Linked DNA regions of Homo sapiens. The protein of the gene in region 1 interacts with the protein of each later gene in a biochemical or structural test. Each region holds a gene or a part of one and is shown on either strand. Other genes may lie near its edges. The genes, in order: TMEM178A and DLG1.

What was found.
Region 2: the proteins of TMEM178A (region 1) and DLG1 interact in a test that uses a peptide from one of them, tested with the Homo sapiens proteins (2 studies listed by IntAct, with this or other methods).

What each region holds. Positions count from the first base shown.
Region 1 is NC_000002.12:39,699,398-39,715,686, forward strand, and holds part of TMEM178A (transmembrane protein 178A isoform 1 precursor), read left to right. Parts: intron 1-4,683; coding exon 4,684-4,797; intron 4,798-7,651; coding exon 7,652-7,789; intron 7,790-12,086; coding exon of another isoform or gene 12,087-12,145; exon of another isoform or gene 12,146-15,865; intron 15,866-16,289. UniProt on the Homo sapiens protein: Acts as a negative regulator of osteoclast differentiation in basal and inflammatory conditions by regulating TNFSF11-induced Ca (2+) fluxes, thereby controlling the induction of NFATC1.
Region 2 is NC_000003.12:197,295,359-197,311,676, reverse strand, and holds the start of DLG1 (disks large homolog 1), read left to right. Parts: upstream 1-13,064; 5' UTR 13,065-13,141; exon of another isoform or gene 13,142-13,430; intron 13,431-13,541; exon of another isoform or gene 13,542-14,133; intron 14,134-14,195; exon of another isoform or gene 14,196-14,324; intron 14,325-14,441; 5' UTR 14,442-14,472; coding exon 14,473-14,491; intron 14,492-15,199; coding exon 15,200-15,331; intron 15,332-16,318. UniProt on the Homo sapiens protein: Essential multidomain scaffolding protein required for normal development. Recruits channels, receptors and signaling molecules to discrete plasma membrane domains in polarized cells.

The DNA.
Region 1 (16,289 bases):
TGCTCTTCTTTTTCTAGTTTTTTAGGGTGGAGAGTTAGAATACTGATTTGAGATCTTTCTGGTTTTGTTTTTGTTTTGAGACAGAGTCTCACTCTGTCACCCAGGCTGGAGTGCAGTGGTGCAATCTCAGCTCACTGCAGCCTACATCTCCTGGGCTTAAGCAATCTTCCCACCTCAGCCTCCTGAGTAGCTAGGACTACAGGTGCGTGCCATCATGCCTGGCTAATTTTGTTTATTTTTTTAGAGACAGGGTCTCACTATGTTGCCCAGGCTGGTCCTCAACTCCTGGGTTCAAGTGACCCTCCCACCTCAGCTTCTCAAGGGTTGGGATTACAGGCATGAGCTACTGTGCCAGGCGAGATCTTTTTTTAATGTAGGCATTTACAGCTATAAATTTCCCTCAAAATTATTGCTTTAGCTGCATCACATAAATTTTGGTATGTTGTAATTTTGTTTTTATTAATTTCAAAATGTTTTCTAATTTACTCTAGTGATTTCTTTGCCTTATCGGTTATTTAGGAGTATATTACTTAATTTCCACAAATTTGTGAATTTCCTAAATTTTATTTTCTTATTTATTTCTAATTTCATTGCATTGTGGTGAGAGAACTTACTTTGTATGACTTTAATGTTTTTAAATTTATTGAGATTTATTTTATTGCTTACATATGGTCTATCCTAGAGAATATACTATGTGCACTTGAGAAGAATGTGTATTTTGCTGTTGTTGGATGGAGTGTTCATAGATGTCTCTTGTATCTTGTTGGTTTATAATGTTGTTCAAGTCTTCTGTTTTTTGTTGATCTTCTGTCCAGTTGTTTTACTATTATTGATCTTCTGCCTAGTTGTTTTACTATTATTGAAATAGAAGTATTGATGTCTCCAACTATTATTTTGAATTGTCTATTTCTCCCTTCAATTCTGTCAGTTTTTGGTATTGCATGTATTTTGGGGCTCTATTGGTCAGTATATGTTTATGACTGCTGTATCTTCTTGATGGATAGACCCATTTATCATTATAAAATATCTTTTTTTCTCTCTGGTAACAATTTTTGTCTTAAATTCTGTTTTGTTTGATATTAGTATAGCCATTTCATCTTTCAGTTATGGTTTTCATGGTATATCTTTTTCCATCCTTTAAAATTTCAACCTATTTGTGTCTGAATTTAAACTGTGTCTCATGTAGACATCATGTAGTTGGATTATGTTGTTTTATCTACAATGCCAATCTCTGCCTTTTTATTGGAGTATATATTTATATTTAATATAATTTTTGGTAGGGTAGGATTTATAGATGCCATTTTTCTATTTGCTTTCTATATGCCATATGCATTTTTGTTCCTCTATTTCTTCATTAATGTTTTCTTTTGTGTTAAATACATATTTTCTAATATGGCTTTTTAATTCTTTTTGTTGTTATTGTTTCATTTACTACATATTTTTTTTTTGTTATTTTCTTAGTGGTTGCCCTGTGGATTACAAGTAACATCTTAACAATCTAGTTTGGATTAATACCAATTGAATTCAATAGTATATAAAAACCTTGCTTCTATATTGTTTCATCCCCACTCTCCTCCTCCATACTATTATTGTCATACAAATTACATGTTTATACACTGTATGCTGATCAACAGAGATTTATAATTGTTGCTTTATGACTTTTAAATCAGATAGGAGAAAAAAAGAGTTGCAAACAAAAATACATTTATACTGTCTTTTACAGTGACCTATGTTGTAACCTTTACATGTGCTTTTTATTTTTTAAATATGGGTTCAGTTATTATCCTTCATTTCACCCTGAAGGACTCCCTTTAGTATTTATTTTTAGGCCAGGTCTGCTAGTGATAGATTCTCTCAGTTTTTGTTTAGCTGGGAATATTTTATTTTTTTCCTAATTTCTGAAGGATAACTTTGATGCATATAGGATTCTTGGTTGACAGTCTTCTTATTTCTGTGTTTTGAATGTGTCATCCTATTCCGTTCTGGCCTCCATGATTTCTGATGAGAAATCAGCTGGTAATCTTTCAAAGTTTTTTTTGTGTATATGATAATTTGCTTTTTTCTTGCTGCTTTCAGGATTCTCTGTCTTTGGCTTTCAACAGTTTGATTATGATATATCTGGGTGTGGGTCTCTGAGTTTATCTTATTTGTAGTTCCTTGAACTTCTTAGGAATGCAAGTTCATATTTTTAATCAAATTTGGGAAGTTTTGGCAGTTATTTCTTCAAATACTCTTTTTTGATCCTCCTTCTCTCCTCCTTTCTGCAGCTCTCATTATGCTTTTGATGGTGCCTCACAGGTCTCTGAGGCCCTGACCATTTTTTAAATCATCCTTTGTTCTTTATTTTTCTCAGACTGGATGATTTCAATGGACCTATCTTCAAGTTTGCTGCTTTTTTCTACCTCCTCAAAACTTCTTTTAAGCCTCTTTGGTGCATTTTTCTTTTCAGTTATTATACTTTTCAACTCCAGAATTTCTATTTTTTTCTTTACAAGAATATTTCTGTCATGTTGCTAATATTCTCTATTTAGTGAAATATCACTCTCATCCTTTCCTTTAGTTATTTGGATAGGTTTTCTTTACTTCTTTGAACATATTTAAAATAGCTGATTTAAAATCTTTGTAAGGTAAGTTCAATATTTGGGATCCCTCAGTGACAGCTTCTATTGACTGCTTTTTTTTTTCTTTTACTTTGAATGTCTCGTACTTTTTTGGTTGAAAACTGGGCATTTGAAATAACATACTATGGCAGCTCTGAAATTAGATTCTTGTCCCTTTCTAGGGTTGATTATTGTTTTTATTGTTGTTGCTGTTGTTCCTTTAGTGACTTTCCTGAACGAATCCTATGAAGTCTATATTCTTTGTCATAGGAGGCCCCTTAAGTCTCTGCTTGATTAGCTTAGTGGTAAACTAATTATTGTACAGAAATGTTCTTAGCCTGCTAAAACCAATAAACCTTCCAGTCTTTGCCAGTGGGGTTTGTTGTGTGCATGTTGGGTATGCCTTCAACTCTGCCTTAGCTTTCACTTCCTGCTTACAGAGCCTCAGGGTCAGTCTGATGAGTACCAAATGGAATGATAGTTTTGAAGAATACAAATGTAAGCTACTACTACATTTGTGGTCCTTTATCTGTCATTGTTCTCATACTATATTGTTTTCCCTTTGGAAGCACAGGCATTTCCTGACTTATAAACAGCTAACTTATATGTAAACAGCTACCTTTAATGCCTTAGACCTCACAACCACTGCCATGGGGCTCATGTTGAAAAAACAAATTAAAAAAAAAAAAAGAACTTCGAATTTTGAGAAAATGTGTGGTTTCATCAAAAAATAAAAAATAAAAAAAAAAGCTTCCAAAAATCAGAGATAGTTTGGGTAGTTTTTCTCAAAGGGAGATTCAGAGACTACCTGCATCAGAATTACTTGGGATGCTTGTTAAAATTCAGCTTCCTGGCTCCATCTCAAAACTTTTGATTCAGTATATCTGGGGTAGAGTTCAGGAGTTTACATTTTTAACGAGCCACCTAGGTGATTCTGATGTACACTAATATCTGAGAAACTCCTTAGGGAAGATGATCCTGTAGGTACATTCACAGGAGGGACTGGGGCTCATGATGCAAATTATGCTCAAATATTAATCTCTTCCCTTCACTATATAATCTTTTTAAAATTTCACCTTTATATGCACTCAGATTCCACCAATTAGAGATTTATTTGCATCTATGAAGATTTTTTTAAATGGCTGGCAGTGTTAAAGGACTAACATTCGCTCATGCCTTTAAAAAAATTAGTTTAATCAGATTGCATTTATCCAAACAACTGGCCAAGATTATTTAAAATGAGAGGAGAACATTTTATAAGTTTTTTTAAATTTTAAGACAGAGTAGATACTTTTCATGAAATTCAGAAGCCTCTAGGAGAAGAGAATAATGGACCCATGTTAATTTATGCAGTAAAACATGGGTGTGTGAGGTTGGTGTGAGGAGGTGGAGAGTGTACTAGATGAATCAATGTGTACACCTGCCCATATCAAAATATTGTGCCTAGGGCTGGCCATACAACCAGATAGGGGAGGAAAATTATTTTCTTTCTTGTTCCTACTTCTAGTATTACCCTTTTTTCTCGAGATCTAGAATTCAGGTCAGTATAACTGTATTAAGGAATGATATCAGCTGCACTAGAGTTAAATAGGTTTTCGAGGTTTGTCTGGAGATATAATCACCACCTAAACCATGTGGAAGGTTATCTTTATGGAAAAATGTCTTCTGGTTTCCAAATAACACACTTCCTAATGAACTTCATGAGGCTACCCTTGAGAGTTTGAGACTGGATCAGATCCAGATGTGTGATTTATCTGTGCTAATTTAAAATTCTAAGCTGATTTTCCCAACCATCTGTGTACTTTTAGGCCATTGCTCCTTAAGGAGTTTTGTGTTTAGGTAAAACAAGCTCCGTATGGGAAAACAATTAGGGGAGTATAGATCCTTATACAATTTAATACATTAAAAAATGAAACCTGATTTTAAACATTATTTTATGTTTTAGGTTTTTATTGCTCTGAATCAAGAGATTCTTATCCCATCTCCCATTCAACCCAGGTTAGGTTACGGTATTCTGCCTCAGGTCTCAGAATTCTGTTACAAATAAGCAGACTCGTAAATCGCGTTTCTTATTTCCTTCAAGGTATTGCGCAGCGATGCACGGCCATCAAGTACCACTTTTCTCAGCCCATCCGCTTGCGAAACATTCCTTTTAATTTAACCAAGACCATACAGCAAGATGAGTGGCACCTGCTTCGTAAGTATTTCCAGGAGAGGTTCAGAGAGGAAATGGTGTCATTCTGAACAAAATTCCCACCACCCCTCTCACATCTGGACAGAAGGATGTTGTTCTTATCCTCTGTGAGCCTCTGGGCCCAATCAGATGTGGTCAGAGACTCAGAGGATCATTTCCCTATGCTGTGGACACAGTTTGCTTAAAAATAAAATGTGTGGAAACCTGGTATAAGGTCTTGTGAGATAGTCTGCCCTGGTGGCATCTGTACACAGCTGCCTACTGAATCTTTTGTTTGCCGAGTTGTTGGGTGTAAGGACCTGCTGTACCCCTTGTCTTGTAAACCAAGGAGATTATACCTTAGGGGCTCTTATTTTTGTTTTGTATATACAATATTTATTTTAGCTACTGTGTTCATCTCCGACCTTTGTATTTCTGCTAAAATACCTTTATGAGTGTATGTCATAATTTTCTCAGAGGGTGTCTACATCTCAATGAAAGGAACTATTCTTTTTCACTGTCAGGAAAATGTGAAACTCTAGAAAGCATCATGCAGTGTGAAACTAAAGAGGGCTGATATTTACCTAAAAACTGTTGATTTAAGCTGCCTGATGATAGATAGCTCCCCGAAACGAAAAACTACTGTGAATTTTTTTGGTCTTTGCCCCCATCAGAGGTTGACATTGTCATTTTCCAATGAAATAAGTAACAAGGACTTCAGGATCTTGTTTGGTGGCCAAAGCCACTGTAGAAAACTAATCAGAGTCTCTCATTCTGTAAGTAAATCTCTCTGCGGATTAAAAGGCTCTGTTCTGAATCTCAAACACATAAATGGAAGCTCTTATGATATTGCCAGAGCAGTGGTCTAATATACATATTATGGCAGGCAACTTTAAGACTTAATCATCTTTCCAGAGAGCCATGTAGTTACTGGCTCAGGTCAGGGGAGAAAAGATCATCATAGGAGCCTGAAAAAGAACCTTAGCTCTTTAATAGTTTGTACCTTGTGATTGCCCAGCAAGGCAGTATTTGAAGATTCTTCTTTTAATCCTTTTTGGAGTTCTCATGGAAAGATGCTTTTAGCAGTCTCATGCATGTCTATTTCTAAGAAAGTCACACTTGGTGATCTGTAGCACATTTACTATATAAGCTTAACATGACTGGTACTAATGCAAATCCCATGTGGATTATATCTGAACCTTGTGCCTTTTCAGAGTCACAGAAAATAGACTATCACTCAAACCATAGGAAATTTGGGAGGCTGTAAGATAATGGTGACTGAACCATACTACATTTCCCCTGCTCAGATGTGGCTGTCTCAAAAACTACTTATACCCTTAACATTAAACTCAGCGTCTTTAAATTATCACTGCTCCTGGCCCCTTATTCATTGGTGTCCACATTTCTTCTTCTAGGCAGAAATACTCTCTTTTAATTTGGATGCTCTGAGTGGGAAATGAGAAATCCCTCTTTAAAAAAGGGATGGTCTCTCTGTGGCTAAGGTGCTAAGAGCAAGACTGGAAGCTACTGTAATCCATCCTCCATGAAGCCGCCCCTAAGCTGCCCAGGAGCCACACAAACACACAATAAAGTGATGGCTGCATGGGCACTTTCACTTTAGCAGAGCAGCCCACACTTCGAACAGTGTGATCTGCACCTTGTCTTGGCCCCATGTGTACACAGGTGTGGATGATCCACGTGCATTTGCCCAGACCTGTTACCTGGCCTTGGGGGCAGCAGATGTATGCTTGGGATGTGTTGTTTTAAGAAGGGTGATTGAAATTTAGCGAACAATTTTTAAAGTTAGTTTTGTTAAAAAAAATCCTTTGAGATGGAGCTGCAAGGTAAATAGAAAAGATTCAAAAGCATTTTTTAAAAAAAGAAGGAAGAAAATAGAAAAAGTAAAATAGCTGGAAGGTAGGCAAGGTGAGTGCTGGTTTAGCAGTTGGAGGCAACTTGTGTCCAGGTACACGTAGTCAGCCTACCTCTTGGTTTTGTCAGGCATGTGGGGAAAGAGCTGGATTTCTGGCTCAGTGATCACAGTTGTGTTTTTGCAATAGACCAAACTAGACAGTTGGGCCACTGTATAGTGGAGATTATGTAGTGGAGACTCATCCTATTGGACTAGTACTTCCTTCACCTGGGTAAATGGATGCCCAGGTTGTGGGATCTATGCTTTAGGGGAGAAGGCATTTCTGAGCAGATGTTTCAGAGGAAAGGGTGTTTATGAGCACATGTATCCTGTGTGCACTTTACACCACTGTTCCACTCACCACAATTGCCTTCGCTTTCTCAAATTGTTTTTGAAAATAGGCAGGAGTAGATGTAAATGAAGAAGTAAATAATTGGCATCTGTGGTGATCAGATAAAACCCTATTTCACAATAGCTTTTTTAGGCTCTTTCTCCAAAGCTAGATTAAGTACAGCCACTACCAGGGTAGTAACCTACATTTCTTTTTTTTCCCCTTTTAAAATTTCAATAGTTTTTGGGGTACAGGTGGTTTTTGGTTAACCTACATTTCTATTGTTCTGTTAAGGCTAACAGATATTTCTCAGACCCACCTCACTCTTTGTTTAAGTCATTTGACATCTGTTACTCAGGTCTATCCTGGGCTTGTCCTCTAGTCTATTCTCCACTTAGTGTGGACTTCTCCACGGACTCAGAGACGGTATAGTCTGACCCTCCATTGGTTACACCCCATCAGTCCTCTTATGGAATACCTGGGAAGAGTATTCCCTATGCCTCCTTGTCCTGTGGGCTCTAAGCCTGTCCATGTAACTTACTAATTTTCACAATGTATACAAAGCCCTAATTCTCTAATTCTTAATGACTTTCCTGAATTCTGATTGTGAATGTCTGTGTCTGTTTTGAGATTAGATTTAAGAAGAATCACTGCTGGCTTCCTCGGCATGGCCGTAGCCGTCCTTCTCTGCGGCTGCATTGTGGCCACAGTCAGTTTCTTCTGGGAGGAGAGCTTGACCCAGCACGTGGCTGGACTCCTGTTCCTCATGACAGGTAGGCTGCATGCCTCAGGCCGTCTGTCCCAGCCAAGGTGAAGGCTGCTCTGCATGCGGCTAGCTAGTGTCGCTTTGTTATCTCCCTGTTAATTTTGTTTTCACTGTTAGAAAAGCAACCAGAAGGTCATTTTGGCTTTGCTGGAAAATACAGAATTTAAGGAAAACAACAGTGTGAGAAATGCATCCTCTATATCCCCATTGTGGCCTGTTAGTAGGTTGGATGGAAGTGTCTTGGGTTTAATCTCTATATGAGCCCAGTCTGTTTTTTTGCTGTACTTTCTTTTTTCTTTTTTGTTTTTTTGAGATGGAGTCTCACTCTGTCACCCAGGCTGGAGTGTAGTGGTGCGATCTTGCCCCACTGCAACCTCTGTCTCCTGGGTTCAAGTGATTCTCCTGCCTCAGCCTCCTGAGTAGCTGGGACTACAGGCATGTGCCACCACACCTGGCTAATTTTTGTATTTTTAGTAGGGTTTCACCATGTTGGCCAGGCTGGTCTCGAACTCCTGACCTCAGGTGATCTGCCTGCCTCAGCCTCCCAAAGTGCTGGGATTACAGGCAAGAGCCACCACACCCCACCTTCTGTTCCTTCTTTCATACTGTGCCCCAAACCCTGGCCTGGACTCTTGGCAAACATGGACCATTGCTTATGAGGTGCCCTCAAAGACAGAGGGGGATAGATCAGCACAACCCATGCCCCGCTGGATGTCAATTCAAAGCATGCTTTAGTGATGGTGTCATTTTTACATACACAACACTCATTCATTTTAGTCCACAGATATCTTTTGAGGACTTACTATGTACGAGGCACTGCTGTGAGTGCTAAAGACACACAATGAATAAGGCAGGCAAAATTCTTGTTCATTTTTATTGTGGAGAGACATAAACAATGATTTGTGGTAGTGATAAAAGCTGTGAAGAAAAGAAACAGGGTGAAACAGGGACTCAGGGAAGATCTTGCTGAGGTGGCGATTTCGCAGCTAATTCGTGAGAAGCAGCCGGTGGTAGGAAGAGCGTAGCAGACTGGGGAAACCGCCAGTGCCAAACCTGAGAGAAGCGGCCAGTGGGGCTGGAGGGAGTGAGGGACAGGATAGTATCACATGAGGTGGGGGAAGTGGGCAGTGGCCAAAGCGTCAGGGTTTTGTTGGTCATGGTGGAGAGCTTGGATTTGAAGCTAAGGGTGACAAACGCCACTAGAAGGTTTGAAGCAAAGGAGTGACTTGATTTTTTTTTTTTTTTTTTTTTTTTTTTGAGACGGAGTTTCGCTCTGTCGCCCAGGCTGGAGTGCAGTGGCGCGATCTCGACTCACTGCAAGCTCCGCCTCCCGGGTTCACGCCATTCTCCTGCCTCAGCCTCCCGTGTAGCTGGGACTACAGGCGCGCGCCACCATGCCCGGCTAATTTTTGTATTTTTAGTAGAGACGGGGTTTCACCGTGTTAGCCAGGATGGTCTCGATCTCCTGACCTCGTGATCCGCCCGCCTCGGCCTCCCAAAGTGCTGGGATTACAGGCGTGAGCCACCGCGCCCGGCCGATTTTTAAAGAAGGGATTGGAAAGATGGGGGTGTGGAGACAGGGCTAGGATTTTTTTGACTAACAGCTAAAGGGTAGTTTTGTCTAAAAATGTGCCAGGTGCTGAGTTGATGGCTAACACTGACCGAAGGTAGCTTCAGGGAAGAAATCTTTCCTTTCTTCTCCTCCTTCACAGAAAACTCGTGTATTAATGATTAGTGAATGCCACATTAACTGGGCATTAACAGTTTCACACAGTATACTCAGCAACAGAACTAATATTCCCCGAGATAGATAGCCATTTTAAATAGGCTTATTTCCACTTGCTTGGAATTCTGTTATTCAAGTGACTATGCCTAGATTTTCTTGCACTTCTCACTGTAATGGGTCACTTAATTAAGCCTGCGTTAACAGGAGGCAGCCACACCCCACCGGGGCTGACACTGTTTGCTGACTGTCTGTCTCTGAGCGTTGACGGGTAGGGGGTACTTTGCCCTCTGGCATGTTCAACCACCCTGCAGCCTTAAGGAACCCACATCACAGGCAGGGATCCTTCCTTCTAACTCCCACTCACCCCTATCCCACTCCACGAAATGGTGCTGCAATTGGCAGTGATCTGGAATGTGGGGCATCATCACCAGCATCCTGGAACATTCAGAAGTCACATGGATGCTGCCTAGTTCTCAGCAGAAAACCAATTTAGGTTTTCTAGATTTTGGTGAATACACAGTGGCCACCAGGACTGTAGCACAGGGAGGCTAAAATGTTAGTTTCTGAGGTTTTAGAGGAGGATTTGGACCCTCAAGACCAGCCACTGGGTTCCTGCCCAAGGGATGCATTTAAAATCCAAATTATAGACTAAAGCAGACGCGGGCAGCAAAGAACCAGAGAGGACTGCACTGCACAGAGGATTCCTTTACACCTCTGCTGGGGCTTAATGGTTATTTAAAAATCTCCCCCGTTTTCTTCTCTCCCTTTATTTAAGCCCCCATTTCTCTGACTCTTGTCTCCATAAATATCAAAGAGGTACAGATGTGTTGCCTCCCAACACATGGGAAAGGCCCCATAACACTCCCCTTGTCAGGAAAATGGGGGATGCTCTGGAGTGGACAAAAGCCTCAGTAGGAGGAGTTTTTAAAGGATACTTTAAATATATGTACTGCCTGAATAGTTTAGTATGCTCTTAGCAAATGAAACAATTGTTAGAACTAAAATAAATTACAAGACCATGAAAGCCTACTGAGTGCTCCTTGGGAGACTGAGGGGCCAGTCTGGTTTTAAATGAAAGGAAGTTGAAGGTTCAATGGCAGGTGGGCACAGAGGAGAGGCAGTAGTTTCCTGGGCCAGCTCCACCTCTCCCTGTTCTCAGCCCTTATTTTGGATCCATGTGTGGATTGTACCTCTGGACCAGAGGAGCTCAGAGGTCCTCAGGATCGAGCACGGGAAGCTCCTGTGTAATTGTTAGGCAACATCAAAATATGCAAAGCAATAGCCACAACAGAAACCACCACCACCACCAACAAAAACCCAAACAATAAACTTGAAGTTTGATGACCAGTTCTGAAGGACTAACAGATACAACCTAACATTGTTAACATTGTTCTGTTGTTTTGTTTTGGTTGCCCAAACAACGTTATTGAAATTAAGGGGGAATCCACTTACAGACCTCATCACCTGAAAACAAAACAACCTTTTTTCAATATTTCCTTTATTTTGGACCAAATCTTGCCATGTATTTGCTTCACTGTAAAAAAACAAGAAAGGAAAAGGAAGGAGAAGAAAGGGGAGGGGATGGAAGAGGGGAGAGGAGGAGCATGGAGTGGATATGCTATGCTGGATTCACCTGTTCTGTTGCTGTGGGATTTAGGGGCGTTTGTTTTGCTTTTGTTACTACAAATAATGCCTTGAAATTTCCTTTGCAAACACTGAGACAACCATGTCAATCTATTGCTTGAGATAAATTAGCTGTAGAACGTTCACATGCAGTAGGAGATGAGAGCAAAAAAAGGGTTAAAAGAATCGATTTTAATTAAGCAGAATGTCTTTAGCCACTCAAGTCAGCATCCTTCCCACAGATTTTTGATGCTAAACTTAGCCCCTTCTAATGCTCTGCCATCTTCATTCTGTGCCTGAACTTATTAGCTAAACCTTCAAATGAAGAACATCAACCATGTGACAGGTTGGCTGGTTAAAATGGAAACTCTGAAACGATATTTCTCCTTCTGCCTTATTGATTGCACACAGACAGGTCTTGATTACCACATGTTACACAGCAGCCCTGCTGACTGTCGATGCACATCTGGAGCCAGGTCTCACCCCTCTTCCTCTTCCCTAGGGCCATGCAAGGGCCCTCCCAGAGAGCCAGGGGCAGCCTGCACATCTCCCACCGGCCTTGAATTTAGACTTTGGATGTCACACCCTCTGAGGTTACACACACACAGGCACAGAAGCATACACAGGTGACTGAGGGAATAAGACTCTTATCTTCCAGCTTTAAGCTTCTGCCCATTACTAGACTATACTGCTTTCAGTGTACTGTGAATGAATATTTCCACCTACATTATTAAGTGATGCATTCTATTAGATGGGTATAATATATACTTATTATAATTTAAGTTATAAATCTTTTAAAAGGTTATTCAGTGCAAACATTTTAAAACACTTTTTAAGGTCTCTGTTGTAGGATTTTTAGTATTTTTTAATTCACCAGGAGTCTTAAAAATTGGATAAAGCTTGGGCCTCCCTTGGTGGGGGTCTCACTGCTCACGAAATTCATTCACCTTCACAGGCTGTGCCTTGAGTGGCCAACTGGAAGATCACACACAGCATGAGACAGTCCCTTCCTGACAGCAGAGACAGAGAAGACAGAGTCCAGGCAGCCCTAGCAGAGCTCCAGGGACAGTTAACACCCACCCACACTGGTTATTCATTCTTTTGTTTTAATGAATCCAAATTTTTTTTAAAAAAAGACTCAACCATGGTAGGTGTATTGAATTATCTAGATTATCCATTGATTATGACATGAAACTACAGGTCCATGATACTTTTTCTATAACCTTGGGGGCCAGGTGTGTTTTGTAATTCAGGATCTAAAACTTTTTATTTTAGAAGAGTAACACGGTGCATATATCCTGTGTTATTTAACACCCTCTGCAAGGTCTGGGGTGGCATCTTGAAATCAAATACATTAATATTCCTGTAGCTAAACATACGAATATTCACACTAAATGGGATCAATAAGTACTAGAATAGCCTGTGTCAGACCAGGCCAGGATTTGCCACTACAGAGATTGCTTCAATCTTTCAGAAAATGATTGGATGCTTTTGGGATTTAGGAATTGCATTTTGTGTGTGTGTGTGTGTGTGTGTGTGTGTGTGTGTGTAAGAGTTTCTTTCTCTCTATTAGTTCTGCCAGTCAGTTAGGACAATATAGGAATGGCTTTTTGAGTAATCTGTGTGCAAACTAGCATGAGGCATTTGAAGGAAGACCAAAGAGATCAGAACGATGGGCAGGCCATCTTTTGAAGGAGCAGGGGAAAAAAATCAATGTTTATGCCTTTGGGTGTTGTAGTTACATTATTTATCAAGCAGGCTAAACAGGGTGAAGCAACTTCCACTCCTTTCAGTCTTTTAAGCACATTAAAAAACGGTGGTCAAAAGAGTGGGCCCCGTTACCCTAATTACATCTTACCAGCCGGCATCATGAAGATTTTAGGGTAGGAAATTAGGTTGATGATTGCAAGGATGATAGCATAAATTTACTTCTGTCCTGATGTGAAAATATCCCTTCTAGCCCTATAATTCTGTGATATCGTGGTATCTTCTAATTAGGAATATTGGCAGAAAACCTTTTAATATTTTATAAGAAAAGTAGTTGCATGCAGGGCTTGTCAGGAAACCAGTAATTTATTCACTTTTTTGAAGATGCTGCCAGCAGTAGTAAGGACCGAGCTCAGGACTCAGGAACCTCTCTCTCTCTCTCTCTCTCTGGGGGACACTAGCTGGCTGAAGAGTATCAGCTAGGCAGGGGAGAAGTGGAAAGGAAGGGAAAGCCTCAGAGAAGAATGGAGGAGAGGCCACCTTTCTCCCCATGGATCTTCAGGAAGGACCATTAGATTTTGAACTTTCTGAATGCAGAGGTGATACCTTATTAATCCTTCCATACTCCTTTCGCATACCTTGCATTAATTAGATTGCTGCCAATGAAAATGCAGCATTATCAGAAATAACTTGCTACATAGGTAATCCCTACTTGGGGTAATTTGTGATGAACCGACTCTTAAGTTGGTAGAACTCAATGTATTGCAGAATTCAGTTTCGTTCAGGTTTTCTTCACTCCATGTGCTCAGCTCTGTTGGACTCCATGCAGAACTTACGGGAAGTCTAAGAGATCCCTATGACCTTTTCCTGAGATGCACGGAGGAGAGTAGAGTGGAGAGAATGCTTGAAGTTCCTGACCACATCAATGTTGAACTGAGTCCAATTGTGACCAAGAAGAGCTCATGAAACTAAACTATCTCTAATATACCAGAACTAGGCTTGGGACGTGGTAGATACTTGATAAATAATTGCTGAATAACTTATTGAGTAACACTTAGAATAGCACAATCTTGCTAAAACCTATAAAAAAGCTAAAAATATATTTCATGCATGAGTACAAACACACACATACTCACATGTGTGTGGAATGTTATGGGCTGAGTTGTGTCCCCTCAAATACACTTGTTGATGTCTTTGTCCCCTACCTCAGAACGTGACAGTATTTGGAAATAGGGTCTTTAAGTTAAAATGAGGTGATATGGATGGGCCCTAACTAAATATGACTGGTGTCCTTATAAGGAGATTTGGTCATGGTGACAGAGGAGAGACTATGTGAAGACACAGGGAGAAGATGGCCATTGACAAGCCAAGGAGAGAGTCCTCAGTTTAAAAAGCCAACCCCGCTGACACCTTGATCTTAGACTGTAGCCTCTACAATTGTGAGAAAACAAATTTCTGTTGTTTAAGCCACCCAGTCCGTGGTACTTTGTTTGGCAGCTCTGGCAAACTCACACATATGAGTACTATAAGACATGTATGTGGAACCTGAAATAGAATTCCACACTCTCAACATTGACCTAAAACTATTAATCCAGCTATAGTAAGAATGCTTTCATCATTTCAAACAACTCTTTTTCTTGATGCCTTTGAATTTAGGATTTTTTGTTTTGTTTTTTAAAATATCTTGAATGGGTTAGGCTTCTTTTACAGAAGCTTGTTGGAAAAGTTGGAAACAATGCTTCTCTCCTCTTAGTACATTTCCTTGTAATCATCACACATTCCTGCCCATCTCACAAATCATTGTGGTGGCAGCTATGCATGTGCAAACATTCTTAGAAATGCGAGGGTCTGAAAATGAAGAGCTCCTAGATATGGTTTTCTTGTCATTCTTTCCTGCCCTGCTTTCCTCTTACTTACTAAGAACAACTTCGAGAGCACTTTGAAAGGAGAAGAGATGTTACAGAAGGGCAAGCTATAGGGGCATTTGTGGGAAGGGGGATGGAGAGAGGGGATGGATTTTTGGGCTGATAGGCCTCCTCTCCACCACGCTCAGCTGAATGAGTAAAGGCAACAAGAAATAAAACAAGTCTGCATCAAAGTTTGATGCGTGCCCTGTTCCAAAAAAAAAACTTAACTGGCATAGAGATAACACTTAAATTAATACAAATAAATAAAGTAAGACAAAGGGACAATCAGGTTTCTGAGGCAAGATGGATCCAAGAGTGAGATTAGAAGCCAAAAGCATGCCATGAAATCCCATACTTTTGCTCATGGTGGGCTACAGATTTAGCTTTAGGGAGCTTCAGTGCTCTGGCAACTTGGATAAAGAAAAATTCTGTTAATGACATCATTCACAGTGTCCATGAGGTAAGCACAAATCAATTCCCCAGGAAAAGCACAAACATCCATGACACTGAGAGCAGAGAGAAATCATTCTGGTTAAATCCCCAGATTAGATTGTTTCTTGTAATTCTTTTCTATTCAGTATGAACCGGTGGTTTAATGATAGAATTCATGTCATCAAAAGCAATTTTATGGGGTTGGCAGGGGAGAGGAGCTAATGAAAGAAATGTTAAGTGTAAAATCAGAGGGAGTATATACAGAAAGATAGATACATAGGACATTCCATTTTCATTTAATTGCATAAGCTGAGTACTAGATTCACTAGGAAGTTTTAATAAATATTCTTGTTTCATGTTTCATTTTGGAATAACAGAATCACAGAAATTTGACACTCTTAGGGACTTCAGTAATCAAGTTTCCCACTCTTTTTTTCCCTAGATGAAGAAACCAAGGCTCAGAGAGGTTAGGTAATTTCAAGTTTGCACAGTGTTTAGTAGAGCTGGAAACTAGAATACTTATTTCTCACATCCCAACCCAATGCACTTGGACATGAAAGGATGCTTAAAAGTCTAGGTTTGAACTCAAGCTTTCATAGGTCATTAAAACAATGTTACTTGTAAAAATGCTTGCTTTTAGGCATTCAGCTATGTGCAAACAGCTAAATGCAGAATAAAGTTGTTTTTCCTGTGAAGAGGTCATTGTTCTATTATTCTATTTTACTTGTTGATGCTCCAAAGATTATTTTTTCTAACTGCCTATTGTTCTATTACCAGCATTTATTAAAAGGGCTTTGTTATATATAAAAACTGCCTTTGTTTTGGTGCCAGTGAAAACATTTGTGTAGATCTAAGAACATTTGCTTTTCACAAGGTTTGAGAAAAGTGGAGTATTCTTTTTTGAATGGCCCATTACTTTATGAGAGAATTATTTCCATCTTGATTTTTCTCTTTGAGAACTCAAAGTGATATGTTTGCTGTAATAAATTGGAGCAAGAAGTCAGAAGAAAAGATTTTATCCTTTTTAGTAAAACAGAATCACTTTAGAGTTTAAATGCAGAATTAAGCAAAGAGTAGGAAATATCAAATTATCTCAGATCCAGTGTCCTTTT
Region 2 (16,318 bases), on another chromosome or scaffold:
GAGAAAGATGAAGGCTAAACCATTGTGTAGGAAGACATTGTCAATGCTTCAGCAGGGACTTCAGTGGAGGTGCTGAATACAGCTTCTGACGGTAAAGGTCATGATGCCATCACATGCAAATGGAGAGACAGACTCCTCATCTCAGAAACCAAAGAAATCTAGACTCCTAAATCTGTAATAGCAGGAAGAACCCTCACTGTAACAGGCTTGCCTCTGAATTTCCCAGGCCTCATTGCTGCCTTTCATTCTCCTCTTCCCAGTCTGGAAACGTATTTCCACCCTTCTTCCTTTGACTGCTTTATCAGACCTTCAGGGCTCAGCCCAGGGCTTCCTCTCTTATTGCCTATCAAGTTAGACTTAAATTATCTGTTTCTATGGACCTCCTTCATTTAACTCTAAGTTTCTTGAAGGCAAGAGCTGTGCCATATTCATCTTTGTATTCATCTGTGAATAGATGGTATTAAATATTGCTTGAACTGAACTGAACTGATTGAAGAATTGAGCCTTTCTTGTTCTTAAGGCTTTCACATTTCCTACTTGAAAGCGAGCAATTTTTTTTTTTTGAAGTGTTTCTCTCTTGTTGCCCAGGCTGGAGCGCAATGGCATGATAAGCAATCTTTTCATTGATAACTAAGCTTGGTGCATTGACCAATCTCTAGAGCCTCTGGAGACCCAGGCTCCCTCTACAGCCACCAAGGGCATTATCCATCAGCATTATCCTCAATAGCATCCTATATGGACAGGAGGGATTTCCTTGGGGCAGAGGGACTGATGCAGTAATGCTGCTGCTAATGCTCGCTCTGGACTGGCTAAAAGAGTTTGTTATTCGTGCAATAAAATCTCTGATCTAATCACGTCCCTGGAAAGCTATCTTTTACATTAAAGAAGACTGGAGTCAAGGATTTTAAAGTGCCGGGCACGATGGCTCACACCTGTAATCCCAGCACTTTGGGAGGCTGAGGCGGGTGAATCTCCTGAGGTCAGGAGTCCGAGACCAGCCTGGCCAACATGGCAAAAAATTAGCCGGGTGTGGTGGCGGGTGCCTGTAATCCCAGCTACTGGAGAGGCTGAGGCGGGTAAATCTCCTGAGGTCAGGAGTCCGAGACCAGCCTGGCCAACATGGCAAAAAATTAGCCGGGTGTGGTGGCGGGTGCCTGTAATCCCAGCTACTGGAGAGGCTGAGGCAGGAGAATCGCTTGAACCCAGGAGGCGGAGGTTGCAGTGAGCCAAGATCCCTCCATAGCACTCCAGCCTGGGCGACAGAGTGAGACTCCAACTCAAAAAATAAAAAATTTAAAAAAAAATTTTTTAAAGCAATCTTCTCCTAAGGAATGGTGATTTCTGGAGTAAAAACTTTCTCTGAATAGGAGTTTCCCTTGCTCACTCCTGCACCAGCCTTCTCTCCATGACCAAATTCATAAGGCACTCAGCAAGACTCTGTGCTCAGAGCCCAATTGCAACACACAGTACAATTATGCTGACCATGCCAAATACTTTGGCTTTGGAGAATAGATCTATTAACCCCAGCAACGTGGTTGTGTTCCTCAAGCGATCCTAGCCTAAGAAAAGACATGTGAATAGCCTGACCTCAGAGTCACCCTGGCCTGAGCTTGCCCTCAACCTGATCTGAACTTCCTGGCACTTGGGACCAGAATAATAGCAGTCACACCTGAGTTTCCAGTATAAGGTCACAATGCAAAGAAGAGAATCAAAAACACTGGTCCGAGAAGATCTTCCAAATCCCTTCCTAAATGAAGTGGTTAGATCAGAGATTTATGTTTGAGTTTTTATTCTCTCCTGATTTGTTCACAATTAACTTGCAAAGCTGTGTTAATAGGCAGCTTCATGAACAGAGATCCCAGAGGTTAGAGACCAATAAGAATTGTACAGTATTGCATCATTTCCTTGGGAAATTCTTCAAATTAAGCCACTAGCTGCATTCTTTTCTGGCTCAATTTAGGGTCACCAAACCATAGAAAAGAATGATTCACCAAACAAACTTTTGCTTTTCCTTTTCTGGTGCTTCATTTAACCGCTTTATGCCTCAGAGTAAAGCTATTATAATGGCATTATCCTTCTAATGAGGAACAGTGCAATGCTTTCCTGATGTTAATACCCAGAATTATGCAGTGTTTAAAAGCCACCGTGACTTTAGGGAATACTCACTAAGTTTTCTATTGCAAATACCCTAGTCATATTGAAAATGAATGAGTGTAATTCTTTTGGTGTTTTTAAAAAACGTACAATTCTTTTAATAAATCATAGTTCCCAAAAGGAATAAGAATGGTTCATTAGCAGTACTAATGAAAATTCCATCTTCAGTAAAACTTAGCAGAATATCATTCCCTGTAACAAAATGTTTTCAGACACTTTGTTTGCCAACTTTATTAATGGAGAACTTTGTGGTCTAGATTAGAAAACTGAAGATAATTGAGAGAAAGAGAAAGAAAGAGAAACCATCCTAGACAAGCAGTTATATGTATCATTTAAAAAATAATGGCTCAAACAATAGTGTCACAAATCTTCAGAGGTAATGAGAAATTTTTAAAAAAATTAAAAAGTGGCATAAAAAACATTGTTCTTAGTAAAATTCTTTTCCAGGCATTATATTTATTGCTGAGGTGTTCTCTTCATCCACTCGTTCGTGTTTAGCCAAGCAACCTTGAGAAGTTCGAAGTTGTTTGCCTGCTACAGACCATAAACAAAGACGGAAGATTTGAATTTTCAAGTCCCAAGGCTTCAGCTTTGCAATTTCCTTCTCAGACAAATTTTCCTAGAGAAATAGAATTTGTTTTAGTTCCTGGCTCATAGTAGTTGCATCATACAGATTAGTTTACTGAATGACCTGATGAATAAGGCTTTTATTAAAGTAGCAGACTAAACAATTTTTCTGTCTGTTTTTAGGAACTTTCCCTGTCTGTGGAAGTAAGTGATGACCACCTGAATGAGAACAGAGGCTATTTATACAGAGCTTGCTATAGCGAGGGAGTGAGCACCGTCACTTGCATTTGGCAGAGGCTCAAAGGCAGGCAAGGGAGTAGGAAAGCTTTATAATTAAAAGAAGAGAAAAGGAGATCCTCAGGTATGGAAAAGCTGGAGGCAAGATAACTAGAAGCAAGGCATTTTGTATGATTGATTTAGGGAGAATACTTGCCTTTCTCTGATTGGCCTTGAGTTGAAAGATGGTAAAAATTAGTGAAGCTGGGCCGGGCGTGGTGGCTTACGCCTGTAATCCCAGCACTTTGGGAGGCCGAGGCAGGCGGATCACGAGGTCAGGAGATCGAGACCATCCTGGCTAACATGGTGAAACCCCGTCTCTACTAAAAAATACAAAAAAAATAGCCGGGCGTGGTGGCGGGTGCCTGTAGTCCCAGCTCCTCGGGAGGCTGAGGCAGGAGAATGGTGTGAACCCGGGAGGCGGAGCCTGCAGTGATCCGAGATCGCGCCACTGCACTCCAGCCTGGGCGACAGAGTGAGACTCCGTCTCAAAAAAAAAAAAAAAAAAATAGGGAAGCTGGCAGTCATTGACCAAGTTCTGATTATTTTAGGCCAATTACTGCAGTGGTTGTTGTCTGATTTCCTGGGTTGCTTGCTGCAGAGGTTGTGGATCACAGAGTTCTGTTGTCATATATGGTCTGGTGTGTATTCAGTCTTTCATCATATATAGCAATTTCTTGAATTACTTTCTCATCCCAATCCCCCTTGACATTTCAAAATGTAGTGGCACGCAAAGTGACTTGCCAACTTGTTTAAATCCATTCGTTTTTGTTTGTTTGTTTTGAGAAGGAGTCTCGCTATGTCGCCCAGGCTGGAGTACAGTGGCGCAATAGCTCACTGCAACCTCTGCCTGCCGGGTTCAAGCAATTCTCATGCCTCAGCCTCCTGAGTAGCTGGGATTGCAGGTACCTGCCACCATGCCCGGTTCATTTTTGTATTTTTAGTAGAGACAGGGTTTCACGATGTTGACCACGCTGGTCTTGAACACTTGACCTCAGGTGATCCACCTGCCTCAGCCTCCCAAAGTGCTGGGATTACAGGCGTGAGCCACTGTGCCTAGCCTAAATAGTGATTTTACATGGAGTTTTGTCATTAGGAGGAGGAAGAAACTTGACTTTTTCACTCTAAGGGGATCTTCTATTTGTTTCCAGGAATTTTAGGGACTCACATACATATTAAATTTGGAAAGGTTCTGAGAAGTAATTTTAAAATTGTCTATAGGCAGAACCACATTTAAATCTTCCTAGTGAGGCTGGGTGCAGTGGCTCATGCCTCCAGACCTGGCTAATTTTTGTATTTTTAGTAGAGATGGGGTTTTATCATGTTGACCAGGCTGGTCTTGAACTCCTGACCTCAAGTGATCCACCCACTTCAGTCTCCCAAAGTGCTGGGATTACAGGCGTGAGCCGCCATGTCCAGCCTCAGGTTGAAAGCCTTCTCATAATGTGTGGTGACCCTTGGTTGGCTCCTCCTGTTGAAAGCTGAGCTGATTGGAGGCTCTGTGTATATTTGAGATATTTGAGAGGCTCATTGATTGGTCTGCATTCTTTTTTTCTGACAGATTCTCACTCTGTTGCCCAGGCTGGAGTGGAGTGGCTCGATCTCAGCTCACTGCAACCTCCGCCTCCTGGGTTTAAGTGATTCTCCTGCCTCAGCTTCCTGAGTAGCTGGGACTACAGGCACCCACCACCACGCCCTGCTCATTTTTGTATTTTTAGTGGAGATAGGGTTGCACCATATAGGCCAGGCTGGTCTCGAACTCCTGATCTCAGGTGATCCGCCCACCTCAGCCTCCCAAAAGTGCTGGGATTACAGGCCGTGCCTGGCCTGGTCTGCATTCTTGAAGGGCAATAAAATGACCAGCTTGACATTTTTTTTAAGCAGCTTTATTGAGATATAACTCACACACCATACAATTCACCCATTTAAACTGCACAGTTCAATGGCTGTTAGTATATTCACAGAACTGTGAGTCCAAAACCACTGTTAATTTTAGAACATTTTTATTAAAATAAAAAAACCTCATTCCTTAGCCCTCACCTTCCAACCCCTTCCATCCCATGCTCCTCAACCCTAGGCAACAACTAATCTACTTTTTCTCTCTACAGATTTGCCTTTTCTGGATATGTCATCTAAATGGAATTTGCAGTATGTGGTCTTTTGTAACTTGCTTCTTTTACTCAGCATAATGTTTTCAAGGTTCACTCATGTCATAGCATGTATCAGTACTTCACTTCTTTATTTTGCTGAATAATATTATGTTACATGGGCGTACCAATTTTATTTTTCCATTTACCAATTCATGGGTATTTGCGTTGTTTCCACTTTCTAGCTATTACGAATAATGTTGTAATGAATATTTGTGTATAGACACGTGTTTTCAGTTGTCTTTGGTGTATACCTAGGAGTGGAATTGTCACATCCTATGGAAATTACATGTCCAAGTGTTCAAAAAACTCCCAGACTGTTTTCCAAAGTGGATGCACCATTTTACAGTCCCAGCAGCAGTGTATGGGGGTTCTGATTTCTCCACATCCTTTGCAGCACTTGTTATGATGGTAACAGCTGTGTCTTTTTGATCAGAGCCATCCTTGTGGGTGTGAAGTCTACCTCACTGTGGTTTTTATTTGCATTTTTCTGATGGCTTAGGCTTTCGTTGTAAGCCTTCCAACTATGAGTATCTACTGATCTTTCTGAGGCAATTCCATTTTTCTCTCTGAAGGGTACTCCAGCTATGGCTAGCAGGAAGAAGGAGGTGGGTGTGAGGGAGTTATCTCTGTTCAATACACAGATTTTCCCTTAGTTTCCTGTACTATAATGCACCACCATCTTCCTCTGAGTCTAGTAGTTCCAAATCTAAAACTTCTCTTATTCTCCAATAAATCAAATTCTTGCCTTTTGGAGGAGTGAGGGAAGATGGTCACCGGTCTGAATATGTGGGAGCCTGGGCATCTAAATTCCTTTTTTTTTTTTTTTTTTTTTTTTGAGATGGAGTCTTGCTCTGTCACCCAGGCTGGAGTGCAGTGGCACAATCTCAGCTGACTGCAACCTCCGCCTCCCGGGTTCATGCGATTCTCCTGCCTCAGCCTCCTGAGTAGCTGGGATTACAGACGGGCACCACCATGCCTGGCTAATTTTTGTAGTTTTAATAGAGATGGGTTTCACCATGTTGGTAAGGCTGGTCTCAAACTCCTGACCTCAAGCAATCCACCTGCCTTGGGCTCCCAAAGTGTTGGGATTACAGGTGTGAGCCACCGCGCCTAGCCACTCTTCTTTTTATTAAGGATGGAGGAACAAGTTTCTCTTTGTTCTAATATTTTTGGAGTCTTTTTCCAAGAGAAAAAAAGAATAGAGATACAGCTTTATTCTGCTCTTTTGAACCCAAGCTTCTCCAAATTATTATGGTAGCATTTCTTATTAAATATTTACTTCTCTCTTATTCTTAAATTGCTTTGTTCATCTTCATTAGTAATTGGTAAAGGCCCATCCCTTTTAAATTTTTGACTCATTGTCTCCTACTCCCTTCGAGCTTGGCTTTGTTTATTCATGTGGTAATTTGCAAGTTGAAATGATATCCAACTTGGGAAAATTTTGCAGGATTTTTAAAAAGCATATTTGGAAAAGTTTCTTCAACTGCCGCCCAATTTATTTATAAAAGGCAGAAGATGCTTTAATCACAAATATTTAATCTCAGTTGATAAAATTGTCTTGGGAAGAAATTAATTTAATCTAAAGAAAATTTAAATAGAAAGCAAGATTTAAATGATTCATTATCGTTACCGTTCTTGTGAGTGTAAAATAGAAGAAAATAATAAAGGAATTTAGGGTTATACAACATGAGGAATAGGAAAATGACAGCCCTAGTGAGTGTCACTTCCCAAAAATGAAAGACTGGCACACAGGTCTTTGTTTTGGAAGGTTGTGGCAGTTTTCCATCCTAAATGAGATTGGTCACTGGACACAGTCCACATATAATTATGAAGAATCTTCTGGCTTCTCCACTTACCAGAATTCTATTCAGGTCATATCTCAGAAATGGAATACAAATGACTTCCTAAAATTCTAATAGCATTTCTTCAAATTCCAATTAAGTTTCCAAGTTTATCTTCTCTACCTACATAAGGATAATCTGACTGAAGGGCCCTGGCCAAAGCCTTCTGTGAACAGACAATGGTCATTCTCTTGGCAGGGGGTGGGGTGAAGAGGTTGTTTCATGTAAGGAGATTTTAGTATAATCCTGAGGATTTCCATATGGGATCCTACGGTTCTGTCAATACCACAAGTTCTTCAAAAGCAGAAAAGCAAATTTGGTTAAACTTAGAAACGTATCTCTAGAAAAGATTACTAATTTCTCCTTACCCCCAGCCCCTTCTCTCTAAAAGAAAGATGGATGGTTCTGGAAATGTCAGTAGCTTTCTGCCATCAGGGAAAAGTCCTCTGATAATTGTGTGCCGACGTTGTCTGGGAGCTCTTCTGGAGCTTACTTTACGTGCTTCTCAAACATGGGGATGGGAGTTGATGGGATCTGAGGGCACTTCCAGTTTGGATGTCCCGTCATCCAGAAAACCTCTCTCATACTTAAGGAAATGAAATGAAGGAGAGAAGGAAGCTACAGGGTATTTTAAATATATACCTTTGCATTAAAAAGAAACCCAAAAAACTCCGAAACAAAAAACCAACCCGTTTAGTTATAACATACCACCAGGGTGCGGATATGCATTTCTTCAAGGCCCTATTTCCATCAAAACTGTCTCCATTGTTAAAGGCATTCAAATATATGACAAGTACACTGTACAACAGACTAGCCCATGACTTGTGCCTTATTTTATCTGAATCTCACTCAGCCTCTCTCTTTTCTCTTTCGCTTAGTCTTTCTCTATCTCTGTCTCTCTCTCACACACATATACACCACTCTGTGCCCAGTGTTTTTTGTTTTGTTTTGTTTAATTTAGAAAAGGAGCCAAGTAGAGAAAAAGCAGCATAGATTAATCGAAGAAACAATGAACTAATGTTCAGCCCAGCTCCAGCCAGCTGTGGGGTCCTAAACCAAGTTATCTCAGTTTCCTCTTCCTCTGTGCTCTCCTTTGCAAAGTGGGAGACCATAACCAACGAGTTTATCTTATCGGTTGCTGTGGACCTGCAGTGAGTTAAATCTGCCTTTGAACACTGTATGAGAGGCTATACCACTCTCCGGATAGACCAGTTTACACGGGAGGCAGTTATTAGTCCTATGCTGATTTAGTACTCCATTATACCACACTCCAGGAATCTTAGGGTGGCTCTTCCATTAAAAAGCATTAATTCAGTGCCTAACTACCTATCATGGAGATGGTCAACTGTCCACATTTTAAAGGGAATTGGTTTCAACCTGTAGCTTTTATTCTGTTAAGAATTATCTATGAGAAAGAGATCAGTCTTGGTACCACCAAAACTGGGTAGAACGAATTCTTGATGTAGACTAAAGGGTGCTAATACCATTTCAGTATTCAGCAGGGACTGAGGTTTCAACAGCTTAGAACTGTGGTCTCAGAGGTCACGTGGTTCAACCTTATGTCCTGGGTATCTACCACCCTCTGACACAGAATCCTTGCTGGCTTCATTCAGCACCTTCCTGATTAAAAAAAAAAAAAAATTTCCACTACCTTGAGGCAGCTCTTTGGAATTTTGGACAGTTTCTGACAACTCATGTTAAGGAAAAACTTCCTGTGTTTGTCCATTGGTTGAATTTTCATCCATTGACTGTACTTGCCCACTGGGTACACAGAATAAGCCTGTTTGATGACTGCAGCTCCCTGGAGACTTCTGTTTTTCCAATGAAATGGCCCTAGATTGTACAGTTGTTTCCTGATTGCTGTGGTTACTCTCTTCTTTCCACATGCTGGTTTGTTCAGATTCCTTTAAAAGCGTGCTGCTAAGCAATGCCCCCTAGGCTCTCATGGAGGTCTGACCAATATGTCCACTTTCAACATACTTGACACTGTTCCTCTTCCTGCAGCCTAAGCTGGCATAAGCTTTTTTGACAGCATTAAATCCTTTCCTTTTAGTGATTGCCTTGGCACAGGCAGCATGCTGCTACCCTGCTGGAGTGAAAGCAAAAGATGCAGCGGAGTCTGGCAGGACCTGGACACCTTCATAGATTTATAAGCTGGGGCCTAGATGGAGGAGAAGACAAAGACAGAGATGTGAAGCTGCAAAGGTGGCTTGGGCAGGATGGTTGGGAAGGGAAGGGTTGGAACTTAGAGACAGTATCTTTGACATTGACTCTCTGACATTTCAATAAAAGAATGGGAAATCTGAGCCTTTCCCCATGGTCTTTGACTCCGAAGCCTTTTAAGCTCTTCAAAAGGCAAGTTAACTTGGAGCTGGAAAGTGAACAGCTTTACCTGCTAGTATTTTGTTGAAGTAACTTCTTCTATTCGTCTATCTAACTATCGATAGACAGACAGATAGGACAGATATAGATAGATAGATAGATAGATAGATAGATAGATAGATAGATAGATGATAGATAGATAGATAGATATAGTGTGTGTGTATATATATATATATTTAATGAGGAAGTTGGAAAATTAGATCCAATATTGTGTCCTATTCAATGGCAGCTGCTCACTGCACAAAGTAAGGAAAACTTTGAGGAAATAAAAGTTGCTTAGAAAAATCCAGATGTCAGGGCTGGGTGCAGTGGCTCACACCTGTAATCCCAGCACTTTGGGAGGCTGAGGCGGGTGGATCACGAGGTCAGGAGATCGAGACCATCCTGGCCAACATGGTGAAACCCCGTCACTACTAAAATACAAAAAATTAGCTGGGCGTGGTGGCACATGCCTGTAGTCCCAACAACCCAGGAGGCTGAGGCAGGAGAATAGCTTGAACCCGGGAGGCAGAGGTTGCAGTGAGCCGAGATCGTACCACTGCACTCCAGCCTGGCAACAGAGCAAGACTCGGTCTAAAAAAAAAAAAAAAGAAAAGAAAAATCCAGATGTCATTGCTTTGTATGTTGTGATGATGTGGTAGCCAGCTCCAAGAAGATGGCCTCCAGTGAGTCTTACTTTCTGGTATTCATATCCTTGAGGCTGATCTAAGTAACTGATCGGATATTATGGAGTATGCTATGGTCTGAATGTTTGTGTCCTTCTTAAATTAATACGTTGAAATCTTCACCTTCAAAGTGATCATATTAAGAGATGAGGCTTTTGGGAGGTGATTAGGTCTTGAAAGTGGAGCTCTTCTAAATGGGATTAGAGCCTTTATAAAAGATGCCAGATAGAGCTTGTTAGTCCCTTGCACCATGGGAAGATGTAGCAAGAAGGCTCCATTCATGAGGAATGGGGCTATTACCAGACACTGAATCTCTTGGTGTTTTTTTTTTTTTTTTTTTTTTTTTTTTTTTTTTTTTTTTTAAGACAGAGTCTTGCTCTGTCGCCCAGGCTGGAGTGCAGTGGCGCGATCTCGGCTCACTGCAACCTCCGCCTCCCGGATTCAAGCAATTCTCTGTCTCAGCCTCCTGAATAGTTGATTACAGGTGCCTGCTACCATGCCTGGCTAATTTTTATATTTTTAGTAGAGACGGGGTTTCACAATCTTGGCCAGGCTGGTCTTGAACTCCTGACCTCGTGATCCACCTGCCTTGGCCTCCCAAAGTGCTGGATATTACAGGCATGAGCCACCGCGCCTGGCCATTTTTTTTTTTTTAATTTTTATTCTCATGACTGTTAGATCACATCTGATGGTGTTTTGATCTTGGACTACTTAGTCTCTAGAGCTGTAATACATTCCTGTTGTTTATAAATCACCCAGTCTAAGGTATTTTGTTATAGCAGCCCAAACAGACTATGACAGAGTGTCACTTTTGAGACTAAGTGATGAAAGGCATTGTGGCTTCTTCTGTCTCGCCATCTTGAATCACTTGCTCTGTTGGACGTCAGCCGCTACGTCATGAAGACACTCAAGCAGCCCTATAGAAAGGTCTTCATGGTGAGAAATTGAAGCCTCCGCCCAATAGCCAGCATCAACTTACTAGCTATGTGAATGATCCATGCTGAAAGAGCCTCCCGTAGTCCCCCTGAAGCCTTCAGATGACTGCAGCCCTGGCAGGCTTCTTGACTGCAACATCATAATGCCCTGAGCCAAAACCACCCAACTATGCCGCTCCTGAATTCCTGACACACAGAAACTGAGATAATATTTATCGCTGTTTAACTTACTAAGCTAATAAGTTTTAAACCCTTAAGCTTTGAGGAACTTTTTTTTTATCCAGCAATAAGTAACTAATAAAGATGGGTAGAAAGGAGGAATGAAGAGTAAAGAGCCTTTATTCATTGTTCATATATGTTCATTTGCTAGGCACTTGCTGCCGGCACCTTAGGCTAAGGGTAGAACAAGTGCTGGGTTCACTGCTGCTTTTGTACACCGCTGACAACCAAATAGGGCTGTCACACAGAATGACAAGAAAAAAGGACACGTCCTCTTTCCTCCCCTTCCTCCTTTTTGCTTTTAGGGGAAGGCTAGGATGACATTGAGAACTCACACAAATTTTGTTTTTGACTCCTCAGTGTCCCCTGGGAAAAGGTGCATTGGCCTTTGTGTACTTGCTACAAGGCTGTGTATCCTTGAGAGCAGGACTCGGATCTTATTTATTTCTATCCCCGTTTCCTAGCAAGTGAACATATATGAACAATAAATGTTATCAAGGGAGAGGGCAAATTTCCCTCCCTGTTTCTTCTGAATTCTGAAGAGATTCCATTGTTAGAATGGTTTCTTACTGCAACCATCCCATTCACAGTCCATCAGCGAAGTCTTGAGAGTATGATGCCTGTCATGAGCCACTTTCACTACTAAATAAATTCCGTCCCTCTGTTAAGTTCCCGGCTGTTAGGACACCTCTGCCTTCAGCACCGTTTGACCCTTCTATCCCATTTTCTCTATGCAATGTTGCTTTAACTGTTGTTCAAGATCCCAGGATGCTTGATCCGGGAAAGCACAGAGGTCTGCTGCCAACATACCAACATACCTCTCTGTCAAGTTGTCCAAAATCACAAGAGAAAGAGCCCTGGACTAGAGCTAGGAGACCTGAGTTCTCGGCTGCTCTGTTACTGATTAGCGTCTATGTCCTTGGACAAGTTGCTTCCCTTTTTCCGGACCTCGGTTCCTTGTCCTAGATAGGTTCTAAAGTCGGTGGGTCCTTACAGTAAGTTAGGATTCTAAGGTGCAATCCAAAAGTAAAACCAGTGGTCAGTATACCTCTGAGTAGCTGTTAAGGTTACAATACGAGGTTCCTCGGCCTTCCCTTTGGTAGCCAATGGATACGGCCTCAGTCAGAGGCCGTCAGGTTTACTGGGAAGAGCCTTCCGGTTTTGAAAGACAGGATCTCCGGGTTTCCAGTTCTGTCACTCACTCGGGGTAACTTTGGGCAAATTCTCTCTGGACCTCCTAATAGGGAGGTCCTCGTCACCCCGAGGAAGTTCGAAGACGTGGGCAGTGACTTGGAAAGCTTCCCGAGATTCCCCTTCTATAACCTGGGTGGCTCAGACCGGGAGCGGGGTCCCAGCCGGCCGGTAATTCCGCCCGGAGGTGCGCACGAAACAAACCTGCAGCGCTGGCCGAGGGCGGCTCAGCTTCGGAGGGCGCGACTCCGGGTGAGTTCTTAAAGGGACCGTCAGAGTTTGGGTAACACCTGCGATGCTGACCGGGCGGGGACGCAGGCTTGAGGGAAATGAATGAATGAATGAATGAGCGAATGAATGAACAAACCTTCTCTGCCCACCCTTAAGTATACCATACTCGGAATTAATCAGTTAGGCTTAAAAATCTTGTACTATAACCCTCAAACTCTTGCCAAGTTAACCAGTGTCTCTATTTCATATGTCCTTCTGTAATGAAACCCCTCCCCCCAAGCCTATTACTAAGGGACGAAGAGTAACTTAACAATCAGCCTGGAGTGGAAGGCAATGCAGAGTTGGCACCCCTCCCCGAACTCCTCCCTCTCCCTCTCCCAGGCCCCGCCCTCCCCGCCCCCTGGGAGGTGCAGTTGGCTCCTCCTTAAGGCGGCTTTTCCCCGGTGGGGATCTACCCCCGGGGTCGCCAGGCGCTGTCTCTGCCGCGGAGTTGGAAACGGCACTGCTGAGTGAGGTTGAGGGGTGTCTCGGTATGTGCGCCTTGGATCTGGTGTAGGCGAGGTCACGCCTCTCTTCAGACAGCCCGAGCCTTCCCGGCCTGGCGCGTTTAGTTCGGAACTGCGGGACGCGCCGGTGGGCTAGGGCAAGGTAAAGGCGGGCTCCTCCAGGGCCACCCCGGGCCACCTGTGGAGTCCGAGTGTTAACTCCTTTGTTCTCAGAGCCACTTCAGCGGCCGCCCTTTTAAGCGAAGAGGTTCCCTTAGGATGCTCCCCGGGTACCCCTTCCGTTCCCCTGCCCTCCCCCGACCCGCCTCCCCCTTCCAACCCGAAGGTAGCAGCGCGGGGAGCCCGGGGCTCGGCGCGAGCCGCCTCCTCACTTCCCATTGGCTGAGAGCGCCGGGAAAGCGGTCACGTGGGAGCGCGGCAGGCCAGCTCGGGGGCCGCCATCTTGGCGGAAAGTTTCGGGGGAGAGCGGTTGGGGGCGCGGAAGGAGGCGAGGTTCCGGGGGTGGGGCGTGCGGCAGCAACTGGGCGAGCGGGCCGGGGGGCCGCGGCGAGCGAGGAGGCGGCGCGGCCGAGAAGGAGGACGAGGCCGCGGGGGTGCGGCGGCCCAGGGGAGCTCCTCCCCCGTCCCTTCGCCCCCTCCGCTCGGCTCCGCGGGCCCCGGGCGGGGCGGGGGTACGTGGAGCGGGGCCGGGCTGGGGAGCTGCTCCGAGTCTGGCCGGGGCGCACCCCAGTTCCGAGCGCACGCCGCTCACCGGAACTTTGTGGCGGCGCCGCAGGTGTGGGGGCCCGCGGAGGTGTGCATGCGGGGCGCGAGGGCGTCGCGGAGAGCGGCCGCTGCCCTGTCCGGCCCCCGCTGGAGCAGCCCGGAGGCAGCGAGCAAGGAGAAAGGCAAGCGAGAGGAGGGGGCCCGAGCAGGGCGGGCGGCCAGTCCCGCTGGTCCCCTCTCAGCGCTCTGCGGCCGCTGCTGGCTCAGGGGCCAAGGGTCGGAGCGCTTCACCCGCCCGTACCCAGTAGCAGGTGGGGAGTGTGGATACTTGTGCGGGGGAAGAGGCGGCCTCAGGTCTAGGCTCTTTGGGGAGGGGACGCTTTCGAGGAGAGTTTGGAAGCCGACTTCTGTCTGTTCTTAATTTGGAGGGGTACCCACTCCAAGGAAAAGCTTTCCACGTTGACAGACAACTGCTGCGTTTTGAGACTCTTTCTTTGACTTGGTAAAACTTTGGAACGTGGGGTTTTCAAATAGGCTGCGAGGGTTTTCTATTTCGATAGGGGAAAATGCTAGTTTAACATGATTCTATCCTTTTTCCTTTCCGTTGTGTGTTTTAAAGGTGTGTGCCCTCTTCCTGATTCTGGAGAAAAATGCCGGTCCGGAAGCAAGGTGAGAGTTTATTCCGTAACTCTGTTGTCGATGTCACTTGCTTTTCCGTGTGTCAGTTTTTTGATTGCCGTTTTAGAATCGTTTGTGTAACTTTGATGAGACAGCACGGTCCTAGCTTTATTGCTTAGGGAATCTAAGCCTCATATCATTTCAGAAGATGGAAACACGAAAATGTTTGTTAAACTTTCTTAACATTTCTCTAGTGATTAAGAGAGGCAGTTAGCCCCCCCCCAACAGATGTCCTTAATAACCCTGAATTGGTGTTTTAGTATTTCACTCTATCATTCTTACTAAGCACTATTCTGTAAGCAACTGTGGGATACTAAGAATTTGTATTTTGAAATGTTAAAAATTTGGATTATGATGACAAATTGTAGATAATCTGCTTTTGCATTATCAGGTAATCTGAAACTGTTGCTAATACTTTGATCTTTTACTTTGGCAAACTACCAGTACACATTTATTCCAAACTGCTCACTCTCCTCCGTTTTCTAATGTGATATATGTTTAAATTTTTCTTGTATTTCTTTAATTTTTTTTTTTATTTTTTGGTCATTCTAAGGAATATGTGTACATGAACATAGTGACATCAATTGACCTGAAGGATTTGCGGAACTATTTAGATGTCATGCAGAATTATTTGCACTAGTATGTGATACTTTTTTTGTAAATAGAGAGTTTTAATCAGGCTCTGCTTTTTCTTCTCAGATACCCAGAGAGCATTGCACCTTTTGGAGGAATATCGTTCAAAACTAAGCCAAACTGAAGACAGACAGCTCAGAAGTTCCATAGAACGGGTTATTAACATATTTCAGAGCAACCTCTTTCAGGCTTTAATAGGTGGGAATTAAAACTTCGTAACTATTATGCCAGCTAGGCTTTATGCTCCTCTCAATTCATTTATTTTAAACTTAAGAAAATGATGTACTTAATTCTCTGAGGCATTCGGTAACTTGAACATCTTCAGTGAGTTGTGTGTTTTTCATAGGCCAGTGTCCTTTCTTAAAATAACTAGTAACCAAAAAACTTTCAGGATTATTTCAGTGGCTTTTGAGAACATTGTTTCACATCTTAATAGCATTAACTATTAAAAGATGTTGCACAGATGTTTAAGGACCTAAAAGGTATGACTGAGTTACTGTGAGCTTGTTTCTGTATTTGACTGGCATGTCTCTGAAGTCATTGAAAGCGTGTGAAGGGTTCTGCTGTGTTGAAGAACATTCATTCCCTTAATGTAGATTTCTGTTTGAGCTTGGCATTCATGGAGTCAGAATTTTAGACCTGGAAAATAATCTTAGAGATGATCTTGTCTAGTAACCGTATTTTACAGGCAAGAAAATGGAAAGTTTTATTCTTAATTGTAACTTAATTTGAAGTGGTGCATTGTTTGAAAGAACTGGAAAAATAAGAGTCCTGAGTTCTTTTGCCACTAATTGAATGATATATCCCAAGTCATTTAATCTTTTCTATGCCACCATATTAGCTGTAGAATGTAGCTGTTGAAATGACAGAATGGGTTTAAAGCCTTTTTTAAGTAGATAAATCATTTTTAAAAGCATCATCTCATATTTTGTGTATAATCTCCTATGTATAAAACAAGGTGACTTGTCTGGCTCTTTTGTCCAGGTACCTCAAAAAGTTTGCAAACCACCGAACTAGAAAGTTTGTCTCTTCCAATTCTAAGAATGAAGTTTTTTTTTTTTGTTTTAGTTATCAACTATATAACATTTTAACATAAGAAGACATATACTTAATTATATTACATTTATTTCTTCAGTAACTTCCAGTCAGATATGGCCTTACATCTATCTGTTGATAGAATAATTG